Homo sapiens: one gene and its partners. The protein of the gene in region 1 purifies or fractionates together with the protein of each later gene. This does not show direct contact. Each region holds a gene or a part of one and is shown on either strand. Other genes may lie near its edges. The genes, in order: AOC2, GOLGA5 and LEMD3.

What was found.
Region 2: the proteins of AOC2 (region 1) and GOLGA5 purify together in Homo sapiens (affinity purification with mass spectrometry; 2 studies listed by BioGRID and IntAct, with this or other methods). This does not show direct contact.
Region 3: the proteins of AOC2 (region 1) and LEMD3 purify together in Homo sapiens (affinity purification with mass spectrometry; 2 studies listed by BioGRID and IntAct, with this or other methods). This does not show direct contact.

What each region holds. Positions count from the first base shown.
Region 1 is NC_000017.11:42,843,064-42,851,802, reverse strand, and holds AOC2 (amine oxidase [copper-containing] 2), read right to left. Parts: upstream 7,224-8,739; 5' UTR 7,177-7,223; coding exon 5,589-7,176; intron 2,718-5,588; coding exon 2,432-2,717; intron 2,203-2,431; coding exon 2,073-2,202; intron 1,722-2,072; coding exon 1,455-1,721; 3' UTR 1,096-1,454; downstream 1-1,095. Other genes in the region: AOC3 (amine oxidase [copper-containing] 3), read right to left, coding at 1-459. UniProt on the Homo sapiens protein: Catalyzes the oxidative deamination of primary amines to the corresponding aldehydes with the concomitant production of hydrogen peroxide and ammonia. Has a preference for 2-phenylethylamine, tryptamine and tyramine.
Region 2 is NC_000014.9:92,832,305-92,839,304, reverse strand, and holds part of GOLGA5 (golgin subfamily A member 5), read right to left. Parts: intron 6,184-7,000; coding exon 5,958-6,183; intron 3,747-5,957; coding exon 3,641-3,746; intron 1,920-3,640; coding exon 1,856-1,919; intron 1-1,855. UniProt on the Homo sapiens protein: Involved in maintaining Golgi structure. Stimulates the formation of Golgi stacks and ribbons. Involved in intra-Golgi retrograde transport.
Region 3 is NC_000012.12:65,170,654-65,182,764, reverse strand, and holds part of LEMD3 (inner nuclear membrane protein Man1), read right to left. Parts: coding exon 11,647-12,111; intron 1-11,646.

The DNA of each region.
Region 1 (8,739 bases):
CCGCATGTAGGAGGGGTGAGGCAGTGGCCCCACCACCAGCTCACTCACGTTGGGCTGGGGTTGCCTGCCAAAGAAGACGATGGCCAGTGCCTCCCGGGCAGGTGGGGGGCTCCCCCTGTCCAAGTGAGCCAGGGCTGCAGCCTTGGGAGGCAGCTGCAACTCCACTGAGAAGACACAGTTGTCCGAGGGCCGGGCCTGGGCTGCATCCACCAGCCCTGGCCCCAGCCGCTGGGTCAGAAAGCGCATCACAGCCGTCAGCTCCTCTCGGCTCAGGTCTGCAAACAGCTGGCTCTGGCCAGGGTGTGTCCAAGGCTGGGCACTGGGAGATACAGAGGGGCAATGGGGAAGCTGGCTGGGTTCACCCCCATCTCCACCCCTGCCCACCAGCAGGACACAAACCAAGGCAAAGATGGTGATGACGGCCAGAATGAGGAGCACGAGGATTGTCTTCTGGTTCATTTTCCCACGAAGAGGGACAGCTGATTCAACCAAAGGAGAGCAATGTATTCTCACGCCAGCAAGACGGGGGCTCTGTTGGCTCCTGGACGGGGTGGGGGGCTCCCGGACTCTGGCTGAGGTTCCCGGTAGTCAGATGCCTGGGACTAAGGGTGGGAAGGACACAGGAAGGCTAGGGCAAGGGGGCGGGGTGGCCGGGGTTGGAGGCGGGTCTGAACAGCTGTGATTTCCACAGACCTTACATGGTTTTGTCTTCCAGCCTCCAAATCACTCTACTTTCTGGGTCAGGGTTGGAGTTGGGGAGAGTTGGGGCTAGGGGGAAGGGGAAGGAAAATTTCAAGATAATGCAGCACTGGGAAGGAGCAGGATCTGTGCAGAGCAGCCTCTCCTGACCTCAGCCCAGCTTCTTCCCCAGTCCCCCACTTAGTCAGGGCCAGATATTTTCCTGTAACTTCAAACTATCGTTTTCCTTCCAAAGACCCCCACCCCCTGCCCCTTTAGCTTTCCAAATGACATTCCTTGGCCAGGTCTATCCCCCTTGCCCTCTGGCCCCCAGCGCTAATTTCCCTGGCCAGACTCCTTAGTATTCTCCAGAGGACTCTAGATACTTAACAGGTCAAACAATAAATTCAAGTAAAATTCCTCTAATACTTTTTATTATAAATTACATACAACATCTGTTTTACAAAATTCTATCTACTCTTCCTTTTGAATGCACATGCATAAAGAGATGTCTGATGTAATGTGACCACCTATTTCTGAGTAGTAGGATTTGTGATATTTTTCTTTGAATATTTAAAAATCATTTTTATAATTTAACACTTTAGAGATGAACAGGAAGTAAGAATTAACCAAAGGGACTGATGGGGGTTTCGTGTGAGAGGAACATTGAGGGGGTGGGAATCTGGGGAGCAGGTGTGATAAAAACACGGAGAATAGAAAGTAGAAACAGGGAAAAGTACATGTGCCTAACCACGCCGCCCGCCACACCCTCAGGACTAGAAGCCGTGGTAAGAGAAAGGGGGTAAGTCCGGGACACAGGCTGCCAGGTCGGGGAGGCAGGCCACAGGATTGATGCTGCAGAGCCCAGCATCCTGGCCCTTCTCAAAGTAGACACTGCCAGGGGAGAAGATGGAGGGGTCCTCATCAAAGAAGTTATAGGGTCGGAGCAAGAAGCCAACTCTGTTCCCCAGAGTCACTGTGTTTGGGATGTCCTCGGCATGGGGAATGTGCAGGAAGCTGGCTGTGACCCAAGCCACCAGATCCTGCAAGAAGAAGGAGGAGCTGGAGGACTATGGAAGCGTGACCCAAAGAACCACCCTTCAGTCACAATCCCAGCCTCCAGTCTCAGCCTGGCTTCCACTCTCCCCAGCCTCATGCCCATACAACACGTGGAGCAATCCATGTAAGCAGCTGTGCGGGGAGAGGGGGGAGCCAGTGTCCCAGAGCTAATCTCACCCCAGGAGGGATGACCTGTGTTGGTCATCAGAAAACTCCATGGCCTCTGAATCTGCGAACTGGAAATCAGCCATTCCCTCTAACCTTTGGCCAGAGGCTGGGCAGCCAAGATGCCATGCCCACAGGTGTCCCTTTCCTATGTCCCTAGGGCAACCAACCTCTCCTAAGAGGGTTTCATTGTTGATGAAGTCAGCAAAGGTAACTGTGGGTGTCCAGATGTCATTCTGGTGATAGATGCTACTGCTCTGTGACTCCTCCTCCTTTCTCTGGGTCACCACAAGCTGGTATCTGGCCAGGAATCATAAGAAGGTGGTTTTGGGAAATGTCAAGTGCCTTTACTGGCCCAGGAGTCCCTTAGATCCGATTCTGTGTGAGACCATTTCCCACCGTGTATCTAACTTGGGTTTGAGGGGAGGTACAGGGATGAATGGTAGCCGTGGGAAGGGAGTTTGTCTCCAAGGACTGGGGCAGGGGAGGGGCTGTCCTTTCCTTCCACCCAGGCCAGGGCCCTCCTCACCTCCCCCAGCTGAGGGCCCTCTCCATGTCACTCTCCAGGGGTATGTGTATGCCAAGGGGGCTGTGGATCTGGATTCGGTACCCGCGCTGGTGACCCCACGCATTAGTCTGGTTGCTAGCCAGGTAGAGGTAGCGGGGTAGGGGGCTTCCCAAGGAAAAAGCTGTCAGGTCCTCCTTTCCCAGGACCTGCCGAGTCAGCTGTGGGCGCTGTAGCCAGTGCTCCGGGTTCCAGGGGGCAGCCACAGGTTTAAACACCACGTCTTCAGCTACCACCCAGTTTTTCAGCCCTGCCAGGGGGAGGGAAAGGAGATGAGTTCCACACCAGGTAAGGTCTCTGGGCCAGGTCCCTGTCTTCCCCATGATGTCCACTGCACTGGTGTGACAAAAGGCAGAGAGAGCATCAGAGCACACTGTGCTGGGAGCCAGGAGGTCTGGGCAAGAGCAAGCTCCTATCTTCTTCCAACTTGCCCTATCCGATAGGGTAACCACTAGCCACACGTGGCTATGAAAATTAAAACTTAGGGCCAGCTGAGGTGGCTCACACCTGCAATCCCAGCACTTTGGGAGGCTGAGGCGGGTGGATCATGTGAGCCCAGGAGTTTGAGACCAGCCTGTGCAACGTGGTGAAACCCTGACTCTACAAACAATAAAAAAATCAGCCAGGCATGGTGGTACATGCCTGTGGTCCCAGTTACTTGGGAAGCTGGGGTAGGAGGATTGCTTGAGCCCAGTAGGTTGTGGCTGCAATGAGCTGAGGTCACACCACTGCACTCTAGCCTGGGCAACAGAGCAAGACTCTGTCTAAAATATATATATATATATATATGTATATATATATATATATATATTCAGTTCCTCTGTCACACTAGCCACACTTGAAGTGCCCAGTTGCCACACATGGCTAGTGACTATTGTTTAGAGCCACAGCTCAAATACGGAATATTTCTATCACTACAGAAAGTTCTATTAGCACTGGACTACCAAACAGTCCCTGGACCAATTTGCTTCTCTGATTCACTTTCTGAATCCCTACACTGGGCATAATTAAAGCTGTTCTATGGCTGTGCCCAATAAACAGAAAAGCACTTGCAGCTGACTAGTGACATTCTTTTAACTATGAAAGGGATAATGATATTTGTCTTGGAGAAGCTAGCTGAAAAACTGACTCCTGAGCCGGGTGTGGCAGCTTGCAACTCAGGAGGCTGGTGGCAGGGTGATGCAGATCCCTTGAACCCAGGTGCTGGACACCAGCTGGGGTAACGGAATGAAACACTGCCTCTTAAAAAAAAAAAAAAAAAAAAAAAAAAGGCCGGGCATGGTAGCTCACAGCACTTTGGGAAGCCGAGGCGAGTGGATCACTTGAGACCGGGAGTTCAAGATGAGCCTGGCCAACATGGTGAAACCCCATCTCTACTTAAATAAATAAATAATTTAAAAAAATTAGCCAGGTGTGGTGGTGTGCTACTCTGGAGGCCGAGACACAAGAATCGCTTGAACCTGGGAGGTGGAGGTTGCGGTGAACTGAGATTGCACCACCGTGCTCCAGCCTGGGCAACAGAGTGAGACTCTGTCTTCAAAAAAAAAAAAAAAGCTGGGCGTGGTAGTGTATGCCTGTCATCCCAGCTACTAAGGAGGCTGAGGCAGGAGGATTGCTTGAGCCCAGGAGGTCAGGGCTGCAGTAACCTGTGATTGCACCGCTGCACTCCAGCCTGGGTGACAGTGAGACACTGCCTCAAAAAAAGAAAACCCAATCCCTTCCCATGGTCCCCTGCATACTCCTCCCAGCTCTGAGACTTCACTTTTGATCTCAGCAAGGTGGGAAGTACTGTCAGTGTTTTTCAGAAGCAAGCACATTCATACCTTTGTCTGGGAGTTCCTTGGAATTCTACAGCATCCATAACCTGCACTGCCTAACTCAGCACTTGGTCATACACTTTCTGCAGGTCTGGACTGTAAGTTCAACGAGACCTATATGAAGGTACCTGGCACGGGAGGCACTGCACTGAAGCTGGTGCCTCTGCAGCCATCCTGTGAGCTGGTGCCTGACACAGCCTCTCTGGCCCACAGCAGCAGCCCATGCTGCACACGCTAGGGGTCCAATAAATGTTACTTCCCAAAACAAGCCTCTTTAATGCCAAAGATGCTGAAGAAAAACTTCCAATCAGAAGACAAGTCAAAATCCAAGTATGTCAAAGAGTAATCTAGTTAATATGATCATTTCAATCATGCTATTAGTCCTTCCTACCCTCCACACCACTGCGAACACAAGTGCAAGTGCATGCACAGAGACACACGCAGGCACGCACGTGCCATGTCTTTAGACTTGAGGATAAGAAAACATTTCACAAGAAATACTAGTTTATGTTGCATTATACTTGGGCAGTCATTTCCTGTCCCATCTCCCGCCACCCTCCTTAGTTTCCCTTAAAATGGAGAGGGTCTGGTGAGTTTCTAATTTTCTTTGTGGATCAGTGTGTGAGTCTGTAAGTTCCTTTCTGTCCTTGACAAAGTCTGTCAGGAACAGCAAGTCCTCTGTGTGCTTTGAGCCCTTTGTGCTTGAGAAATCTCTTTCCATACTTGCAGCAAGCTGTGTGCCTGCCATGAGTCAACTGTGATGACAGGAATGGGATGGCCCTCCCGATGAGGAGTGGCCCTATCCTGGGGAGCAACCCCAGCTTTGCTACCCTCTCCTTCCTAAGCCCCAGGTCGACCCCCACCCTGAAGACTCTGGACAGACTTCTTCCGACCTCGGCTCAGGACCCTGCCCTCCCCACCCCTACTGACCCTCAGAATTAGGAAGAAGCAAAGTGCTCCAACTCCAGCCCCATTGGGCCAGTTCACCCACCCAGTGTCACTTGAGGCTAAGGCAATCATGCCCAGCCATTACATTTAAACTAGTTTCACAATCATAGCAAGTCAGAGGGGCTGGGCGGGGGAACTCTTTTCACCTTTTACCAGATACCCAGTAGCCCAGTACCAGACTCACTGCACTGAATATGCTCAAACAGTCCCTGCCCTGTTGCCACTAGAGCTGTGGTGTTGGAACACCCTGCTCTTGCCACTTGTTATTTCAGCTTGACCTGGGAGATTCCCTTCCCTTCCCTCCACCCCACCTGACCCCGCCCCCAAGTCTCCATCCTCATCCCCTCAGCACTCACCTGCCACATCCAGGTCCAGCTTGAAGTGGAAGGCATGTGTGTGCACCGTTCCCAGCACTCTTTCCCCCACACGGTTCCCAAAGAGGAGGCCCTCCTCTCCCCCTTTCAGGAAAGCTGTGTTGATATAACCCGTGGCATGGACCCGCCCTTCAAGTGCCCCATTTGGGTACAACACAAAGTCCCAAATGTAGTCATAGTTGCCCACAGATGACACAGACCTGACCACAAGGGCTGAGCTGGCCAAACCACCATAGAAATGATTTTGAAGGTAATTGTGGTGCCTTCGAAGGGGCAGTCCCTGGGCTTCCTCAAATACACACACAGCCCCTGGAAGCAGCTGGACTGCCCCTTTGCCCACTAATATATGGATGTCCACCATCGTGGCTTGATAGGGGCAGTCCACTCCCCGCACCAAGCCTCGGCTGTTACGGCCGAGTCCAAAGCTGCTATCCAAATAGCGAGTCAGCATCGTCTTGGGTGAATCGGCACCATAGATAGATACACACTCCTGGACACTGACTTCATAGGCTATTCGCTCACCCTGGAACCGAACATCAAAAATCCTCAGGCCGCTGAACACCCCATGGCCAAAGGTAAATGACCAGAGGGAGGATACCACCAGGTTTCCTTGCACACTGTACTGGGAACCCTGGGGCGAGAACTGAAGAGGGGGAAGAGGACCTGGAGAGTTCCGAGACCTCAGGGATGAAGCTCCATTTGGTGGAGGTAGAGGGACTCTAACCACTTCCAACCGGCCAGACTTAAACTCCCGTTCCAACTGGCCCAAGTCTGCATAGTAGTGCCCAAGGTAGAAGACCTGCTGGACAGTCCAGTGGGCAGGGTCCAGGGCCCTGTGGTCCAGTAGTAGCTCCAGCCCCACGGGGTGAAGGAAAAGACCAACCCCTGAGATGTTATGGTAGAGGGCCATCCAGGTAGCTCGGTCCCCTGAGCGCAAGCCCCGAGGGGTGGCATGCACAGCTGCCAGGGTAGAGCCATTGTAGTTGAAGGTGGACGACAGGAAGATGGGTGCCTTGGGTAGCTCCACCTCTTTCAGATGCCTCCACATCTGTGTAAACTCAGCTCTCAGCACCGGGCGACGGTGATAGGGCAGGGGCCCGCCGTGACGCTCCACAGTCACATCCCGCATGTACGAGGGGTGAGGCAGCGGCCCCACCACCAGCTCACTCACATTGGGTTGGGGTTGTCCACCAAAGAGGACGATGGCCAGTGCCTCCCGGGCAGGTGGGGGGCTCCCCCTGTCCAGGTGGGCCAGGGCTGCAGCCTTGGGGGGCAGCTGCAGCTCCACTGAGAAGATGCAGTTGTCCGAGGGCTGAGCCTGGGCTGCGTCCACCAGCCCTGGCCCCAGCCGCTGGGTCAGAAAGCGCATCACAGCTGTCAACTCCTCTCGGCTCAGGTCTGCAAACAGCTGGCTCTGGCCAGGGTGTGGCCAGGGCTGGGCCCTATGGGATACAGAGGGGCAGTGGGGAGGCTGGCTGGAACCACCTGGGCTGGTCAGCAAAACATAGGCCAGGGCAAAGATGGTAATGAGGGACAGTGCCAGGAACGCCAGGACTATCTTGAGATGCATGGTGGATGCTGAGAGCTGAAATCAGAATTCTAACAGCTGCTCCTTCCAGTTACTGACATCAAGTCGGGGTTTATATTCGCTAGGATGGATAGGAAGGGAGAAAACTCCACCCCATGGGTTGGGCAGGAAATTTCTGACCTTGATTTATGTAATTCTGTTCCAATTTTCTGTCCTGTGGTTTGGCCCAGGGCACTGCTTCCACATGCATAGCCTCTTCCTTGCCCCTGAACTCCCACTGGTAGCAGTCAGTACCAACTACTGATTTCCATCATTTAGACCAGATGAAAGGGAATCTGGGTTAACGATGCTAACCTCCAGTTTCCACCTGGAATGGGTCTCAGGAAGAGTACAAACCTCAGATGCCCAATTAAGTTCTGCAGCCTGCATGCAAGCACTAAGCTGTCCATTTTCCTACCTCCTGGCAGGAACTGCATCCCAACAGCTCCAGGATTCACTGCCATGTTCAGCAGTAAGCACTGAATTCTACTTGTTGCCTAATGCCAAGCCCTTGATTTGTAGTCAGGCCATTTCCAACCAGTGGAGTGGCTGAGGGCCTGGGCTTAGTAATCAGGTTTGTCCACCAATCCCAGTTCCCTCAGCTGTGTAACCTTAGCGGAAATACTTATCCTGAGTCTCAGTGTCCTCATCTGTAACAAATAGATACAACTATCCTATAGATTCCTGAAGATTAAATGTGATCATGCACATTAGGTACTTAACAGCCTGGCACAGGGGAGGCACTCACAAACCGCTAGCTTTTGGTAGTCATCTCTGAAACAGAACAGAGCAGCTGCTCCTCCATTGTTCAAGACCTTAAACTCTTTTTACAGAGACAACGAGGGGATCATTGGAAACCAGAAGGCTACTTGCAAGGTGGAAGATGAGGAAACTTTATTTCAGAGGGAGATAGATTCCTAGGCAGCCCTCCAAGTAATTTGAAAACCAAAACTAGGAGTCTCCTCAAGAAACTGAAGACATTATTCAGGAAGAATTAGTATAAGGTAAAGAAAATGACTGGGTAGGACGCGCCTTGAACCAGTTCATTCCTTACACATGGAACGATAGCAGCCTCTACTGGCAGTTCATGGGTATCACTCGGGAAGGAAGGAACTAGGATCTTCTGAAAGTAGGGAGAGAAGGCAGCTTAGGTCTGGGAAGAGCTAACTTTCCCATAATTCAGACTGAACACAAATGAAGCACCCAACCTTGCTCAGTAGGCAGAAGCCTCAGTCTTTCCACTATACTGGGGAAAAGATTCAGCTCAACTGGCATAAGGACACACAACAGGGTGGCTAGGTGTCCATGGAGGTGGGTGTCCAAGCGTGCACACATATGAGCATGAGTACATCCCTAGCCACCAGAGCATTGCACCAGGGTCTGCGGCTTTAGAAAGAGGTCAAAGTACCTGTATTTTTAATAATTTCTTGACATGGTAAAAGAATTTTACATTACGATCCATGGGTGATAGGGTGAGGAGGAGGGGCAGTGGAACAGTCCAACAAACGAAACGGGAAACTGAGAAACACATGGAGGGAAGGGGGAAGGGTTTTAGCTGGAAGGGAT
Region 2 (7,000 bases), on another chromosome or scaffold:
TGTACACTGAGGGCAGGCACTGTGTCTTACCTGCCTCTGTATCCCCTATGGGACACATGAAGGAATGAATGAAACAACTAAATGAGCTCAGTGCAATGGAAGGTAATAAAGACTTGCTACTCCTACAGAATTCAGTTGAGAGGAGTCAGCTCTGAACTTCAACACATTCACAATATGCACGTGTATGCAAAATAATCAGTTGATTATAATGCAGAGTGATTAAAACTGCTAGATACACATGAAGTTGGTTAGAAAACACTTTTAGAACAGTTATAGTTGGTATTCTGAAAGAGAGTTTAACCAATGTTCGGTGAAGAAGAGATGGGAAAATATTCTAGACAGAAATAATGTGTCGTTTCAGAGGCTGATGTAGGGCCCAGAACACGATTCATAGTGACAAATTTAATTCCCTCATGGTAGTACCGAAATGATACGAGATTCCATCACTAAGTGCCTCACCACTTTGTCGTGTGCCAGAAATCACATCTCATGGGCACCATCTCATGACAGTGCCCGTGTTACTCATCATCACTAACACCTGGGAAATCAACCCCTCTGGGGCATATTCTGAATGCTTTCTGATGCCATTCAATTTTTTTTTGTACTCCCCACGCTTTCCTTCTTAAAAACTTGTTATTATGCCAGGTGCAGTGGCTCACACCTGTAATCCCAGCACTTTGGGAGGCCGAAGAGGGCGGATTACTCAAGGTCAGGAGTTTGAGACCAGCTTGGCCAACATAGTGAAAACCCATCTCCCAAACACAGAAAAATTCGCTAGGTGCAGTGGCGTGCGCCTGTAGCCCCAGGTACTCGGCAGGCTGAGGCAGGAGAATCGCTTGAACCTGGGAGGTGGAGAATGCAGTGAGCCAAGATCATGCCACTGCACTCCAGCCTGGGTGACAGAGCGAGACTCAGTCTCAGAAAAAAAAAACAACACAAAACCTGTATTTAAAGGAATAACTCTTCCCTCTAGTGGATCACAGAGAAATTTCTTTTTAAAGAAATTTCTTTTCAAGAAAACAGCCCATTTTCATTCAACCCAACTACTTTTAGACATACCCACTCCAAATAGTTAGCAGCCTTTTTAGGCACACGGTACATGCGAAATGGCATCCCAAACTACCGTAACCATTTTACTAGAGGTAAGAAATCTGGGAGAAAGTAAATCAATCTTGAGGCTCTTTTAGAAAATAAAGCAAAACACATGAAAACAATTAAAGCAACTTTACAACGTCAAGATAAAAAATTGTTTTGTATTCAAATTGTTTTTATCATTAGAAGGGCTTTAAAATGGAGGTAACTATTAGACTGCGTTTAATTTTATTTGTAGGAAAAGCCTTTGAGGAATTTATATTCTAGACATAATGAATTGTCAATTTATACTCTACCAAAAGAAATCTTAATTACTAAAACTGAGTTCTCTCTTTCCAAACTGTCTGCTGGCTGGGTGCGTTGGCGCATTCCTGAAATCCCAGCACTCTGAGAGGCCAAGGTGGGAGGATCACTCGAGCCCAGAAGTTTGAGACTATCCTGGGCAACATGGTGAAACCCTGTCTCTACAAAAAATACAAATATTAGCTGGGCATGGTGGTGCACGCCTGTAGTCCCAGCTACTTGGGAGGCAAAGGTGGGAGGATGGCTTGAGCCTGGGAGGTAGAGGCTGCAGTGAGCCAAGACTGCACCACTGAACTCCAGCCTCAGCAAAAGAGCCAGACCCTGTTTCAAAAAAAACAAAAAAAAATTGATTGATTGCTAAAATATCAATAAGATCTGTAGCCAAAACAAACAAACAAACAAAAAAAAAAACTAGTTAAAAATCAAGTGCATCATTGTTTTTTCAAATAAATTTACTTACCATATATATAATTACAAAAACTCGCGCTATGGGGTATCTTCGGAGAAAAATTCCCAGGCGAATACTGTGCAGACACAGGTGTGAGGGGGAGAGGAGAGAGAAGAGTCACAGTCAAAACAAATCTTCCTGTGGTAATATCTAATGATGCTGATAAATTTAACTCATTTAAACTATTTATGTGGCTACCACAGAAGAACAATTTTTATAGCAGACTGTTAAATGATTACTTGAAATAATAATATAAAAATGTCATAGAGGTAAATAAATGCTTTTATCATTATTTGGGGCTTGGCTGTTAAACTTCAGCACAGGTATTTCTCTTAATTCTACAGCCACAACTGTAGGAGGCAAACTTGATCCCTAATTTTTTTTTTTTTTGAGACGGAGTTTCTCTCCTGTCGCCCAGGCTGGAGTGCAATGGCGCGATCTCTGCCCACGGCAACCTCTGCTTCCTGGGTTCAAGCAATTCTCCAGCTTCAGCCTCCCGAGTAGCTGGGATTACAGGTGCGCCACTACCACCACGCCTGGCTAATTTTTTTGTATTTTTAGTAGAGACGGGGTTTCGCCATGTTGGCCAGGCTGATTTCAAACTCCTGACCTCAGGTGATCCGCCTGCCTCAGCCTCCCCAAAGTGCTGGGATTACAGGTGTGAGCCACCGTGCCCGGCCTAAATCTTTTTTTAGTGGAATTACAGAAGTTACGAAAGATTAGGTGGGTGTCAACTATGTGACTGGGGAAAAAAAGAGTCTGGTTGGCATTAACCTGCAAATAGCTAATCTAGAAGCTTTTGTATAGATACATGCTTCTAAAAGGTACAAAGCTATAAACTCATGCATTTGAATAAATAGTGTGGAAGCAATATGATGTCCAGATCTATTATGCCTCTGCAACATTTTTTTCCCTATCAAGACAGATACATGCAGAAGCAATACCCCTTTCTGCTTCTTTCATTGCCACTAGCACAATGTCTTGCACTTAGGTTCTCTAACAACTACGTATGTTGAATAAATGAATAGTTGAACTAGATGTGCTTAATTTGGACATAATGGCTATGGCATCCTAGTTCTGAGGCTTCAGTCATCTTGGTATATCATTCTTATTTTTAATACAATAGCTCAATTCTGACACAAAAAGGTACAAAAAGATTATTATGCCACAATTCATTAAAACTTTTCATTATAAACACTACAAAGAAAAAGGGTACAGTAGGTTATTTAGACAAGAACCTTATCAATGCTATATGTAAACTATTAAAATATTTTTTTGATAAGGCAGATGTCTGCTAATATAAAAAATTTACATATACATAAACATAAATTTTGTTATTTATATAAAATATATAATACAATGAGTGCTGTTCAGCTATATATAGTAGCATCTTTTATTCTAATAGCATGATAAAATTCTGGGATAAAACATTCAAATGGATACTTTTACATGAAGTAGAGGCTTTCTCAATAAAATTTAATGAAGTTTTTAAAAATAGAATTTATTATAGAAAAAAGAGATACAGTCAGGGTTAATCATCTTCAATAAAATGTAGGCATTGGCAGACCTCTTGACATAATTTCTGACATGATATTTCAAATATCATGAAAGAAGTCACTTCATGAAAGTGTAATATAACTGTGAAATAAATAAAAGTGTATATAAGTATAAAATATCTTGAAAGGAGTAAGTCACTTTAAATATAGACTCTGCCTGATGGGAGTCACTGTGATTGAAACCCTGAAAAACGTAAAAACAGCTGATGGTCCATCACTCATCCCTACTGGCATTGCTTACCTAAACTGATCAATTGAACTAGCAGCTTTGCGAACTTTTCCGTACATTCCTGCCAGATTAGTTTCTGTGTCATTAAAAAGAACAGGAACATTTCGCAGACGAGTGCCTGTTTAAATAAGAAAATAAATTAGTGTACTGACATAAAAATTAACTAAGACAATTATAATTGGAAATACACTGTATTACATGTGGAAGGAATTTTCAAGGGCAACTTTCTAAGCATCACCCCAAAGTAGATGAAACTATAAAGAAAGGACAGGTAAATTTGATGACATAAATATTTAAACATCCATATCCACAACAAGAAAAAAGTTTTAAATAAGAAAATGATTTTAGCAAAAATTAAGAAATTTACAAATACTAAGCGTTGACAAGAGTCAATATTAATGGGCCCTTTGTTCCTATGTGAGGAGGAGTGAGGCCGGGTGGTCTTTCTATGAAGCAGAGGACTCCCAAATGTGTACTCCAGCCCAGAGGCTTCATCCCCTGCCAGACTCATCCAACTGCCTATTCGCTTCCATCCAGATATCTAACGGGCACCCCAAAGCCTGCCTAACACTACAATTCAGAGTTCTTGTCCTCGCTGTCAACCTGCCTCAGCTGCCATTTCCCTGTCTCAGGACATCACAATTCCAATCCTTCCATCTGCTCAGGCCAAAACTCTTGACTTCTTTCTCTCAAACTCCGTATCTCATCTGCCAACATATTCTGTCAGCTTACCTTTAAAATAAATTCTCAGTCCACCTTCACAATCCCACTCAGTTCTAGACTACCATCTCTCACATGGATTAATGCAATGGCTACCCACCCACCTCCGGCCTCCTCTTGCCCTGTCTCCCTGCTTCCACTTTTAGCCCTGTGCAGTCTATTCTTGACATGGCAGTCAGAGGCAGCCTATTAAGGTGCAAGTCAGATCAGTCCCCCCTCTCAAGATCCTTCAATGGCTTCCTACCTCATTCAGAGTAAAAGTCCCCATACAGGCCTCAACGGCCTATTCTAAGCTCTCTGGATTCATCTTACACAAGTGTCTTCTTCACTCAGTCTACTCCAGAGGCCTTGGCCTCCTTGCTGTTCCTGAAATATGCCAGGAACATGCCTGCCTCAAGGCCTTTGTGCCTGCTCTTCTTTCTGCCTGGAACACTTTTTTTCTATGCCTCCTCATTGTTCACTATCTTACCTCCTTTGGGACTTTAAAGAAGTGACACTTTTCACCGTATGTTCTCACTCATAGGTGGGAATTGAACAATGAGAACACATGGACACAGGAAGGGGAACATCACACTCTGGGGACTGTTGTGGGGCTGGGGGAGGGGGGAGGAGGGATAGTATTAGGAGATAGACCTAATGCTAAATGACGAGTTAATGGGTGCAGCACACCAGCATGGCACATGTATACATATGTAACTAACCTGCACATTGTGCACATGTACCCTAAAACTTAAAGTATAATAATAATAAAAAAATAAAATAAAAAAAAAAAGGTGAAACCTAAAAGAAACTGAAAACCCTTAAAAAAATCACAGAAGTTATGGTCAGGAAAATTTTATTAATTTAAGCGAGGCACTTTTTATTTATGCCATTAAGGAGTATGATTTACTTATTTATAATTTCATTTTTACTTGTAATTAACAATTACAAATAAAATGATAATTATACATTAAAAAAAAAAAAGAAGTGACACTTTTCAACGAGGTCTTCCTGATCACCCTTTTTAAATTACAGTGCCATCCCCATACCTGGCACCCAGCGTCTCTTAAACAATTTTTTTTATTAAAAGAAATAATTTAAAGCCAAAGAACTGAGAAATTTGCTGAATGACAATTTGTAGACTTTACGAAGTTCCAAGATTAAAAATCTGATCTGTTGATGCTTATACTATCTTACACATTATTTTTTAATTACATATGTTGGGAATCTATAGATTTCTTTAGATATGGTTATGTGAACTATGTATTAGCTCTAATACCCGTAACTATTTACTGGAAGATTATTAAAGCAAATCTTGTTTCAAGTGTCCTGAAAGCTCCTCTCTACTGAATTCCTCGCCTTGTCAGCATCATCTTGTTAAGTGTCTCAGACATTACAATATAATTATCAATCCTCAGACTACTTTCCCCAAGTCTAATACTGGTGAGGAATATTAATTAGTCCATTATCCGGTTCACTAACAATACTAAACAGTACGTGGCCCAGGTCTCATATCAGAAAATTGAGTCCTTCACTGGATGAAGTTTCTTTCAAATAAAAATAGTCCTTCTATAACTTTTCAAAAGCATGTTTGAATGAAATGTTCTTTTGAGATTCCTTTTTTGATTACCTTCACCATTGTCAATTCCAGACATATTAATCGAAGACCCATTACTACTACTTCCAGAGGCGGAGTTCATCTGCTGTTCGAGGCGCTCCAGTTGAAAGACCAGGGAGTTCTTTTCTGTGCTGAGACTCTCCAGCATGGTCTGTTTCTGGATGAGAGTCTCTGTTAGCTGATGGAGTCGATTTTCTAACTCAGACTGACTGCTATTGCTTAAAGTTTTATTGGTAAGCTGAAAGAGAAAGTGTTCACAAAATTCTTACATAAAATGAAAGTCATACAATACAGAAATCACACTACTACATTTTCATAGGTAAATTGTGGCATTCATTGATTTCTCAAAACTCTATACTGACTCAATGTCTACAAAAGTGATTTTCAAAAACTGGGGTCATGAAATCAATTTGGTGGGTCAAAATCAGCATTTTAGAAAATGTAATAGAATGGGACATATTCTGATATTTATGTAACATATAGTATATATAAAAGTATAATTTTGTGAAACTCCTGTTTCAGTTTGGTACATGTAAGTGCATGTCAGTACTGAGACACGATGTAAACTGTTTTTCTCACTGAGGCGTCATGGTCAAAGTATTTCAAAGCATGGGTTTAGAGGACACAATCCACACTTTTCAACAGGGATTCAAAAGCCTCCGTCATTCAACAGTTACGGTGCAGTGCAAAGATCACACTCTGAGGTTTTCATCTCTGCTCTGCAATTTTCAAGCTATTTGACTTCAGGTTAATTGCTATACTTCTCTGAATCTGTTTCCTCATCTGTTAGTGAAGATGACAGCACCCGTTGCACATGGTATTTAGGGACAGTAAATGATAGTTGTCCTAGGAGACTCTGGCTGAAAGTTGATACTTAACGACTTCCTTCATTCCATCTTCCATCTGGTCTTATCTGTCTCCATCTCCCTCTACTCTCCTCCAGCCTCCGCTATGCCGGCCACGTTTCCTCTGTTTGGAAACTCAATCCCCTTCTCTTATCTAGGCTCCACCTGCCTTTCTTTCTTATAAATCCCTTACAGCACTCCCCACAAATT
Region 3 (12,111 bases), on another chromosome or scaffold:
CAAATTCAGTACTACATTTTGGATTAAAGCAATGTAACCCATTTACACTGACTTTCCTATCAGCAAATCTACCTTTTAGTGATCAGCAAGGCTACAATCCAGTTTCAAGTTGTGTCATCACCTGTTTAATATAGCTGCAAAAAAAAACCACATTATTTTTCAGTCCTGGAGATAAGGAAGGCACTAATTATGTAACGTGAAAAGATAACTCCCTTTTATCTGCTCAGACAGCTTGAAAGGTTTAAATACTGATAAGGACTATAAATTTAGCCAACTCTATTACTTATTAACATTACTGACAGGACATGTCATAATGCTGAACATGTGTTGCTTAAACTACTATAGCTGTTAAGTCCTATCTTATAATATTAAAATTACAGTTATATATCACTCCAAATTTCTCCAAAGCATTTCTACAGACATTATCACAGCAGTTCCCTACAAAAATCACTGGCTGGAAGTAAAGTTGATTTTACTATACCCTCATTTAACAGACACAAAAAGCAAGGCCCAGAGGTTGTGTTTATCTTGCTTGCCCAAATAAAGCCTGTAGCTAACGATAAGATAAAGTATAAAAAAATTCTACTGCTGCCTGGTAGTTAATACTGTGAACTCTAAAGTTAGATCTTGGGTTCAAATGCTGGCTCCAACACCTAGTAGCTGTGGGACCTTGGACAAATCACTTGTAACCTTATTCCCTCTATCTTTCCGTTTTCTCACAGACATAGTATGAGTAGTTACCCTCATGAAAATTAAAATAAAATGCTCACACACATTGAAAATTCTCAATAAATGTTTGCTCTTCTCACCTAAGGCTTTAAAATCTGAAAGACGGGACATTTAGAGATGAAATTAAAAAAAAAAAACAAAACACTTCTGTCAAAAGGATAAGAATATTTCTAGAACATCTTGAACCATAATCATAAATGTTCAGATTTTATAACATTTTCATTTTTGGCAAATTCATTCTTCATGTCTCTTCCTTTTTTAAAAATTACTCCTAAAAACCTGCAAAAAATAAAACCTACATTTATTAAAATTGTGTGGTTTTTAAAGGTAGAATTCCCAATTGAGAAAATGGTAATACAGAAAAGGTGAAAGGAATGATCAACACACATTACTTCAATTAGCCAACTATTTCTTTTGTGTATATATACACTGTGATAAGCTTTACCAGATGGTATACTCAAATTTACAGAAACTAATTTTTAAAGTATGTTTCCCAAGTCACAATATATAAATCTGATACACTGTTGCATGGTAACAAAATCCCAATTCTGAAGGCTAGCTAGTGCAGAAATATTTAGGAAAAAGAAGAGAATGCCAGCCAAAGCGTGGGGAGAGTGTCACTCCTATAGTTCTAAAAGGTATGATATATACTTATCTTCTGCCATTACCTGGTACATAGTATAGGTGCTCAATAAATAATCTGGGTGAATGCGTGACTGAATGAATAAATGAGTAGGAGAAACTTAATGTTTCTTCAAATGAACTAAATCAAACAAGAAAGCATTTGTGATCCCATGGGAGATACACTTATAAACTAAGGAAGTCCTTAATAAGGCTGACCAAGGTTCCAAGCCATAGCTCAGAGGCTAGAAGAAGTAGATATCCCAAGATTCCCCTCACCTCCTAATTAATTTCAACAATCCTCTTCATATGCTTTGAAAATTTTACCTTGGTGAATTCCTACAGAGCAAAAGCATCCTTTGTAAGTACAGCATGCTTTCAGGAATTAGCCATAGTCAGAAAATTGTGTGTGTGTGTGTGTGTGTTTGTGTACATACTCAGATATATATGAGCTAACTGAGAAACAAAATTAATTTTCTGCTATGTGCTAAAATATCCATTTGCTACTAAAGGGTTTTTTCTATTCATGTCATATTCAGGGCAGAACAGCAATTGGTGCATACTTACTACCCAATTAGTTCAGGAGAGCTGAACTACACTCTTGCATAGTTTTACAACCAAGCCTTGTTTTTAAACTTTAGCTTGCCATTTGATAGTAACATAGCTGTAAAGATGAATTCAGAAGTCATCTTGCAAAAGCATTTTAAGTAAAAAGCTGTGCAAAAGCACAGAGCAATAAATCTAGCACCCAGGAAAAATTCAGTGGTATAATTTTAAACTATACCTTGACATAAAAGAAAATGAAGACATATGAAAAGTAATTCATGATGGCTTCCATATGATAGATGCATTATTCTATTTTTAGAGATTACCTCTGTTACTATAACTTTTATAACCTTTTTGAAGAGCTAATTTCCTAAGAAATATATTTTTTAAATAATGATATTAAACATGCAAAATAAATTATTAAAACCTAACTTATTTTCTTCCTGGTAAACTCTTGTTTAAAAAAATTTTGGCAATATTGTTAATAAAGAATATTATTAACTATATATATAATATATAATATATAAACTGATGCAGTTTAAAGCATAGATTATTAAAACAGTGAAATCCAAAGGTTACTGCTCAACTATACTGTTACTGGTTCACTTTAAAATCTATGTTAGGGCAGGGCACGGTGGCGCACACCTGTAACCCCAGCACTTTGAGAGGCCGAGGCAGGTGGATTACCTGAGGTCAGGAGTTTAAGACCAGCCTGGCCAACATGGTGAAACCTCATCTCTACTAAAAAATACAAAAATTAGCCGGGCGTGGTGCCATGTGCCTGTAATCCCAGATACTTGGGAGGTGGAGGCAGGAAAATCACTTGAACCTAGGAGATGGAGGCTGCAGTGAGCCGATATTGCACCACTGCACTCCAGCCTGGGCGAGAGAACAAGATCCTGTCTCCAAAAAAATAAAAAATAAATAAAATCTATGTTAAAAATAAATCTAAATATGAAAATCAAAATCCAAAGTTATAAGCAAATAACTGTTATAACAATTTCCACAATTAGTATTAAGCTATGTTCCCATATTAAATGGCAGCAATTTTTAATGTATAATCAATACAAGATTAAAATACATCTTTTTTAAAATGTTATTTTAAGTTCTGGGATACATGTGCAGGATGTGCAGGTTTGTTACATAGGTAAACGCGTGCCATGGCAGTTTGCTGCACCTATCAACCCATCACCTAGGTATTAAGCCCAGCATGCATTAGCTATTTTTCCTGATATTCTCCCCACCCCTAGAATATATCTTCATTCGAATTTAGATTATATCATTAGTAATAAAATTTTCACAAACAAGTTAGTAGTACTTATTTATTAACAAATACATTTTGGAGAGTTCCAACAGTTTAAGGTGTCCTTCTCTTTTAAACAACTTACAAACTATATAATTATCTTTGCACTGAGGCTATAAATTTCCATTTATATAACATATTTTTCAGATAGGGAAAGTTAATATTGAATAATCAATGAGCAAGGAGAAGCAAGCTTTAAGAACTTCCCAACTCTTAGGAATCATGAAAATAATTTTTCATGATTATTTTAGTGTCCCTGAAATTATCAAATGCATCATTTCCATTAAAACATATATGAGTATAAAGGGAAAATATGAAGTTTATTCAAAAGGAGCAAAAAAGGGAGATCAAATGTATGAAAAGTTCTTTATATCCTAAAAATGAACAACAGAAAGAACAAGTTGTAATTGGTAATACAAATCAAAAGATCACTTTCCCTACCAGTTTTGAGACTGCAAATATTTTAAAAATTAGAAATAGTTTTAATATTGTATTATTGTTCTATGTATTATATATTATAGTTTGCTTCATAGCAGATGCCCCCTCCCCCTTAATTAATCTAAAACCTTAAGGATAAATAGTTCCATGTGATTCATAATTGTTGAATGAATACAACTTTTCCTAAAGTTGTTAGGTTTCATAGATTATTCCTGCCACTTCTAGGATTTTATGAATCTATACTTGTCACAGTTTTCTGAAAATAAAGACAATAATAGTAGAGAACATATATCAAGTCCTTATTTATACATATTAAAAGGCAATCTAGAAGAACAGTTAAGAGCCACTGTCTGAGTTCAAATACTGCCGCTTCACTTACTAGCTACATGACCCTGGGCGAGTTACTTCTCAGTGTCTCCATTTACTTATAAAATGGGATAAGTACCTACCTCATAAGGATTAAATAATAATTGTTTAGCTCAGTGCCTGGAACACAGTTAATGCTACGTAAGGGTTAGTTATTATTATTACTATGTGCCATGTATGAGTTTTACTTTACACACATTACTTCATTCTCATTTAACCTATTTTTCATATGAGGATATTGAGGTTTACAATGGCTAAGCAACTTGCCTTAGTGAAAAAAAGCTAGTAAGTGGAAGGGCCAATATTGAAGCCCAGGTTCTCTGATAGCTATGCCAGTGTATCCTCAAACTAGTCTCCGTGGATATATCTGTAGAGATTCACAAGTTTTTCCTCATTATTTTTAATTTAAATCATTCTAGGGAAAATTTTCAAATGAAAAACATTTTCATAGAGTAGACTTTAATTTCTGAAATCATCAAACTGGTATATGCAAATCCCTGGCATTCACGGGAATATTCTCATAGATCTAGGATTTTTTTTTTTTTCTTACAAAGCAGTCAACTCGTAAAACTTCAAACATAACATGGAGCTTTCATTCTTCAAGAATGAGAGAATAGGCCGGCTGCTATGGCTGACACCTGTAATCTCAGCACTTTGGGAGGCGAAGGTGACAGGATCGCTTGAGCCCAGGAGTTCAAGACCAGCCTGGACAACAAAGTGAGATCCTGTCTCAACAAAAAATACAAAAAATTTGCCAGATGTGGTGATGCAGATCTATAGTCCCAGCTACTCAGGAGGCTGAGCTGTGAGGATTGCTTGAGTCCTGGGAGGTTGAGGCTGCAGTAAGCCATGATCACACCACTGCAATCCAACCTGGGTGACACAGCAAGACCCTGTCTCATATTGAAAAAAAAAAAAAAAGAATGAGAGCAACAGCTATTTTTCAAAATCCTTATTCCCCATATTCATTTTAGATACCAAGTTCGGGACCTTTTGGCTAGTCTACTTTAAGAAGTAAAAATATTTTTTAAACGACAATGACATTAAAACATGTTACTTCTTTGTAACAACTGGTCTTGATTTTAAAGAAAACAACAACACATTAAAAAAACAAACATTTAAAAGTATTCCCTTAGTAAACAGTACTAGTACTCACATTCAGCACCAGTCTCTCATCTTTACTCCAATTCTGTATCTACAAGAGCCTACAAGAATTTTTCACTTGAACAACTCAAATAATAAGCCCCAAGTAAACTCATTTTCCCTAGACCACTTTTCCCCAAACAAGATCCCTCTTCCACATCTCTAATTCCTCCAATGATATTATCATTCTCTCAGTCATCCAGGCTCATGGCCAGAATAATCTTTGACTCCTATCTGTCTCTTATTCTCTATACTCAAAACCATATGTCTTTCTTCAAATGAATTTCATTCATAGGCCCAACTCCATTCCCACTTATCCACCTCCTTCAGGTGTCATCACCCTACTCCTTCCCTCCAACCCTATCACTGTCTAAACCATCACCTGTTTATCCTTCTTAAAGGACCAATTCGATCATGCTTGTCCTCTGCTTTATAACCTCCATGAATTGCCATTACTCAACCTACAGAATAAAATCCAAATGTTGAATTTAGAACTTTTGATCATGTAAGACTGATCATTTGAGAATTTACAGTGAATTCTCCCCTTTTATAAAAGTGTGTAACCACATAATATCCTGTATGTTTCTTAGCCATTTCCTATTACTGTTATTAGTGGTGTGGAGGCTTCTACAGAAATAAGATTTCTTTTATATATCCTTACCAGATACTAAGTAGATAACCAATTACCGAGTTAGATACTACCAGTTAACAGTGCATATATCCTGAGTACCTGATATGTGATCATTTATTCAACAGATATTTGCTGAATAATGAATCTGTGCTGAAGATACTAATGTGACTTCCATCTACTAAGAGATTTCCATGTGCCAGACAACACTAGTTTAGATGCATTATCTCACTTAATACAAGTCATCCTCAGATAGTATTATCAATCTCATTTTTAGTATGAGGCAATTATATCTCTAGTATAGTCTACTTTAAAAAGTAGAGCCAAAATCAGAACTGAGTAAAAAGTTTGTACTCTTTAACACTGTATTCTACTCCTATAGAAATATTACTCTAAAGAAAGGAGCTGTCATCTATTTGGCATGGTGGACACACAAATATAATACTTTGTCCTAAATACTATGAAGGATGCAATTAATGTCTTATTTGAGCACAAAATGATGGGCCAAACTCTAGGGTAAAAAGATGGAGAGTCAGAGATATCTGGAGATGACATGTTTAAGAATGAATCACAGTTACAAAATAAAGAAACATTCCCAAAAAAGGGGATAACCTGTGCAAAGGTAGAAAAGCACAAATTTCATGACTTACTCAGAAAACAGCAAACAGTTCAGTTTTCTAGAAAGTAAGTGTGATAAGGGAGACTGGTAGAAAGGGCAAGCATAGTCAGATCATGAACAGTTTAGCCAACGAGTTTAGATTTTGGCCAATAACTAAGAGAAAGCCATTGTGTAATTTTAAGCAAGAGGGAATGATCACATTTGTGCTTTAGAAACGCTGCTCTGTACTGACAAATGGACTGGAAGAGCTACAGCCTAGAAGCAGGGACACCATTTTAGGTTACTGAAAGAGTTCAGGCAAGAGACTAACCTAGAACAGTGGCGAGGGACAGAAAAAGATTGATTCAAAAGATATAGAGGAAACAGAACTACAGGACTTGGTATCCAATTAGGTTGGGGGTTTGTAGGAAGGTGAGGGAAAGGAAAGAATCTAGGTAAATCCAAGGTTTCTCTCTTGAGCTCTGTCTGGGTGGATGGAAGCACCATTAACTAAACAGGGAGGAGGAGCAAAAACAAGGTAAATATAAAGAAAATGTCAGATGGTATTGGTACATACTTCTAGTATACCCAAAAGATGTCTAGTAAACAAATAGGTATACCTAGATCTCAGGAGAAATCCAAGGTAAAAATACAAAACTGGAAGATAATGACAAGGAGAGTGAATGAAACTTCCTAGAGAAATGTGTGCAAAAGGAGACAGCCAAAGATCAAGTTGTGGAGACCACCAATATTTAAAACAGGCAGACAGAAGTATGAAAACTAGGAGAGAGTAGTGATACAGAAGCTTAGAAAGGAGAAAGTTTCATGAAGAAGGGAGTTGTCAATGCACTAAATGTACCAAAGAGATGAGGATTTGAAAATTGAGTAACTGGTGACTTGAAGAAGAGAGGTAGCAGAGGAATGGCTGGTAAAGAAAGCTAAACTAGACAGGGTTGAGTGAATGGCAGGGAAGAAAATAGAGGCAGAAAGTTTGAGAAGAGTAACAACTAGAGAAGAAAAGAGCACAGAAGAGCAACATTTTTAGAATGGTAGAGATTTTAGTATTTTTATAGGATGAGAAAGGGACTAGTGGAAAATGAGATTTTAAAATTATACCTCTGTACTTAAAATTAGTATATGGAAAAGTTACCCATGATACAAAAAACAAGTTGCAGAATATGTATGCTATAATATCACTTAAAATTCTGACTCCTTTCAACGGCCCTCAAGGCGTTTAGGTCTTTATGATCTGGCCCATACCTACCTTTAACTTCATGGTATGCCATTTTCCCCTTCATTCATTATGTCCCAGCAACACTGGCCATTCTTTTTGGTCCTTCAACACACAAGCCTGTTTTTGCCTCAGGAATTCTGCACTTGCTGATACTTCTGCCAGAATGCTCTTCTCCTGATCAAAGGCTAGTTCCCTCAAGTCATTCATATCTCAGTTCAAACATCCTTCCTCAGAGAGGTCTGCCTACCTTTATGTAATATTGCATATCTCTTCACCTCAGCCCCCAAAAGTTACCAGCAATACCTTGTGTTAGCAACTACCATTATGTGAAATTCTTATTTACTTGTCCATTCCCCTCCTAGAAATGTAAGCTCTGTAACAGAGATTTCATCTTCCACATATGCAACATATTGTTCACCACATATCCCTGCTGCTTAAAATAATACCGGGCACATAGTAGACACTCTGCTGTTGAATGAAAATCTGTACACACACACATACACACACACACACAGAGATGTATTTACATGAAAAATACTAAGAAAGGTCAGAAAGGATCTAATACTTGAACTTATTTATATGGGGGCAGCATGAGGCTAGGAAGAGAGGCATACAATAACCATTCACTGTTTCCTTCATCTCTATTCAAACTTTCTGCAGAAGTCATGTCTTTTGTAATTGAAAAAAAAATTAATAATGATCATACGAGCCTAGGACAGTCAATCTATTCTGCTTCTCTATTTTCGTTTGGTGGGCTATAATGATCTAATCACCTGTGGAACAAGCGACTACTCTGATTGCAGGTTGATCCTTGAGTTGTTTTGGTATGGCAGTTCAAAGTTAAAATCTTAAATCTTGGAGCTGGAAAGAGCTTAGGGATCATCTAATCCAACCCCCTAGTTTTATAGATGAGGAAGAAGAGACTTATAGCAATTTAATTAATAAAAAAATAGGGCATTGATGAAAAAGTTTCAAAGACTATATGATTAAGAACAATTTAAAAGACTAATCTACTATATGTTATATGTAATTTAAATAATAAAAGCCTCCTAAAAGTTACTCTCACATATAACCTACAATCTTCTGGTGAAAACTATTACTCAAAGTAAACGTATTTCCCTAAGCATACTATTTGACCAATGAACTCTACAGTTAAAGCATCATAATATAACAAAGGATATGGAATACGTGTATGTATGTGTGTGTATATATATATGGAGTGAAAATATTATTCACTCTTGATACCCTAACACTGTTAGGTGTGCAGACTAACTGAAGTTAGCAGGCACTTCTTTCCACAGGGTAGACATACAATACATCAAGTGTATCATACATTTAAGGATTCATTATACTTTGATTCAAATTTCTGTATTAATTTCTATAATGTATATTTAATGGGATAAAAATCAAATGTTAGGTTAAGAAATGCACTATACTATGTCATTTATAGAAATGTCTTAACTATTTATCTCTCTAGATATACTGTAGTTTACCAGGAATACAACAAATTTTGTCCAAATTTCTGAATAATACCACCTTATGTTTAACACACTGTCTCACCTGACCCTCACAAACAAACCCAGAGACAGCAGATATTATTACTTCCATTTAGTATATAAAAATGAGGCTCAGAGATTAAGGAGCTTGACCACAGTCATTCAGACAAGTCCTAGAACCTAGATCCTCTACTTCTTAGCCATTGTTCTTTCCAACGCCCAGATTACTTCACATTTACCATTTACTAAAATGTAAATATAATTTCCTTCCTTCCTTATCAGTGAAGGTGAAGAGTACCAAAATCCTAGCATTCCTATCCTATTCTACCTGAACTTTTAGTACACCACATTAGTCATTCATCTTAACACTGATGAGAAAGATGTGAAAGTCACCTTAACTGAGAATTGTGCTTATCAATAATTCTGTATGAAATCCTACCAAATAGTCAATTACTTTCTTAATCATAATAAAGGTACCCACTTATTTAGAAAGCTCTCTACAAACAATAACCAAAACAGTGTTAAAATGGTCTTTCTAGTTGGAAATAAAATCTGAAACCAAATCTTAGCCCTACTACTAACTGTTCAACACTCAGTGCATTTCTTAACTTAGTATCATCCTCATCCAAAAATGAGGATACCACCACCTGCTTCTGTGAGTTGCTGGGAAGATTAGATGGTACAATAGGTGTAAAGCAATTAGCTCTTAGAAAATGGCCAGATCTGCTAACATGGTGAAACCCTGTCTCTACTAAAAATACAAAAAAAATTTAGCCAGGTGTGGCGGCACGCGCATGTAGTCCCAGCTACTTGGGAGGCTGAGGCAGGAGAATCACTTGAACCCAGGAGGCGGAGGTTGCAGTGACCAGAGATTGTGCCACTGCACTCCAGCCTAGCGACAGAGCTAGACTCTGTCTAAAAAAAAAAAAAAAGAAAAGAAAAAGGCCAGATCTTATAGTTGTTAGAGACACAGATGCAGATAGCTACTGCTGATAGGTAATGTCATTTAATTTATGTGAACTTTTACTTGTTTAACTTCTAGTGTGCCCTTATTTTTTTTCTCCCAAATATTTGGGGCAGGACACAATACACTCATGCTCCCAGGGAATAAACTAAAGTGAGAGCTGAATTTCATTCTTGTTTCAACCCCTGTAATTAAGCAACAGAGTAAAAATCTATTATTTGACTGTCTCGGAATTGGCTATATCTAAATCTAAGCTTACATTATTTTGACTCCTACTCTTTATCTGAGTTGGCTAACTGCATCTTTCACTCTATTTTGAAATAAAACTAATAAGCCAATTTTATAAATACAAATAAAAATACAGTGAATTCATCTTGGGTGAAAAGAGTAGGAAGCCTTCAGGGAGAATGCAGAGAGGGACCTAACACTGAGAAATTATGTATTCAGAAGTCCATTTTGTCCTAATTTACTTTCTCTTTTAATCTTCACAAACATTCTAGTCAATAGAGGCCTCATCTTATAGATTAGGAAAGTTCAGAAGCTTTAACTCTGACTCTCTCCCCTTTGCTCAAGGTGCTTAACCACTCTAACCTACAAGAAGGCTCTTGCTCAACTCAAGGCCTTAATCTCTGCTCAGAATGGTCTACTGTTTCTCCACAAGGCTGTCTCCTTCTGCTTCAGGTCTCACCTCAAATAGTACCTCCTCCGTTCAATCTAAAGTAGTGTACACCTACGTCAGTGTAGTCTGGTAAATTTTTTTAAAAAAGGAAAAAAAATAAAGTTGTGTACGCCAATTACTCATCTTTATTTCCTTCAGAGAACACAAAATGGTCTGTATTCATCTTCTTTTTGTGTTTAAGGGCAGAGATACTTTGATTATGACAATGAACACACCTGCCTACAGTCATTTAGCAAGTAAATAGTAGGACCTGGAAACCAATCCAAGGAAATCTGACTGCAAGCTCCTGCACTGCCCTACCACTACTTTTTGTACAGATGATAGGGAAAGTGCTTTGGGCTGGGAAATAAATTAAGAGGTGTGCCTTGCTGCTTTTTTATATTCATTCACTATAAAGAAATTATACATACAGTTAATACCACAAAATATTTAATCCGAATTTATGCATACAGTTAATATTATAAAATAATTCGAATTTCAAGAGCTATTACATTGCCTATTAGAATCACAACTCAATTTGGAAAAACACTACATTTATAATGTGCCTTATCCTAATACTTCAAATTTGTTAAGTAACTGGCATCTGCGCAAATAGTCTTTCAGGGCTAAAAGAGAATTGTCACATATACAAATGAGTTTTACTAACAAGCTTATAATATTCTTTTAAAAATTGTTTTGAATTTCACAATACATCATGCAGAAAACTTTTAAAACCAGCCATATGACATCATTTCGATAATGGTGTTCTTTAAGAAAGATGACACATGCACGCACTGTTGCGTTTTTGCTGTTAAACCATATTCTTGCAGGTAAGTCACTTCATGTAAAACGCTAAGCGCGGCTAAAGCGGACCACTAACAACATTCTCTTTGTTACCTTACCCACAGGATTTAATACTTACTGCTGAGTTCTCCATCCTCAGATACTCCTGTCCCTCTCATTCCTAGGTAAGTCAGTCCCAGTATTAGGAAAAATAAGCAGGCAGCAGTTAAGAGAAACATCGACAAGTAGTGGGCACTGAAACTCCCTGTTGGGGACACCTCCTCCCGTTTAAATTGCTGGAGAAGTTCCTCTTCGGGTTCGGAAAGCTTCGGTTTGTTGTATGTGTTTTTCAGGTAGGTATGATTGGAGCCCGTATGATTGGCGTGATTGATCCTGAGTGAACTAGAGGCGGCCACCGCCGCACTGGGAGGGAGACTGTTAGAATAAATCCTGGGGGAGTCCACACTGAAGGCCCCACCGCCAATATGATTATTGGTTTTCAGAAGGGAGCCTGTTGACGAATCCAAGGTTGAGTCCATGTCAGTAAGTGGCGGGGGCAGGAGAGGGGTCAGTTTCTTAGCGTTAACACGGTATCTAGGAACGG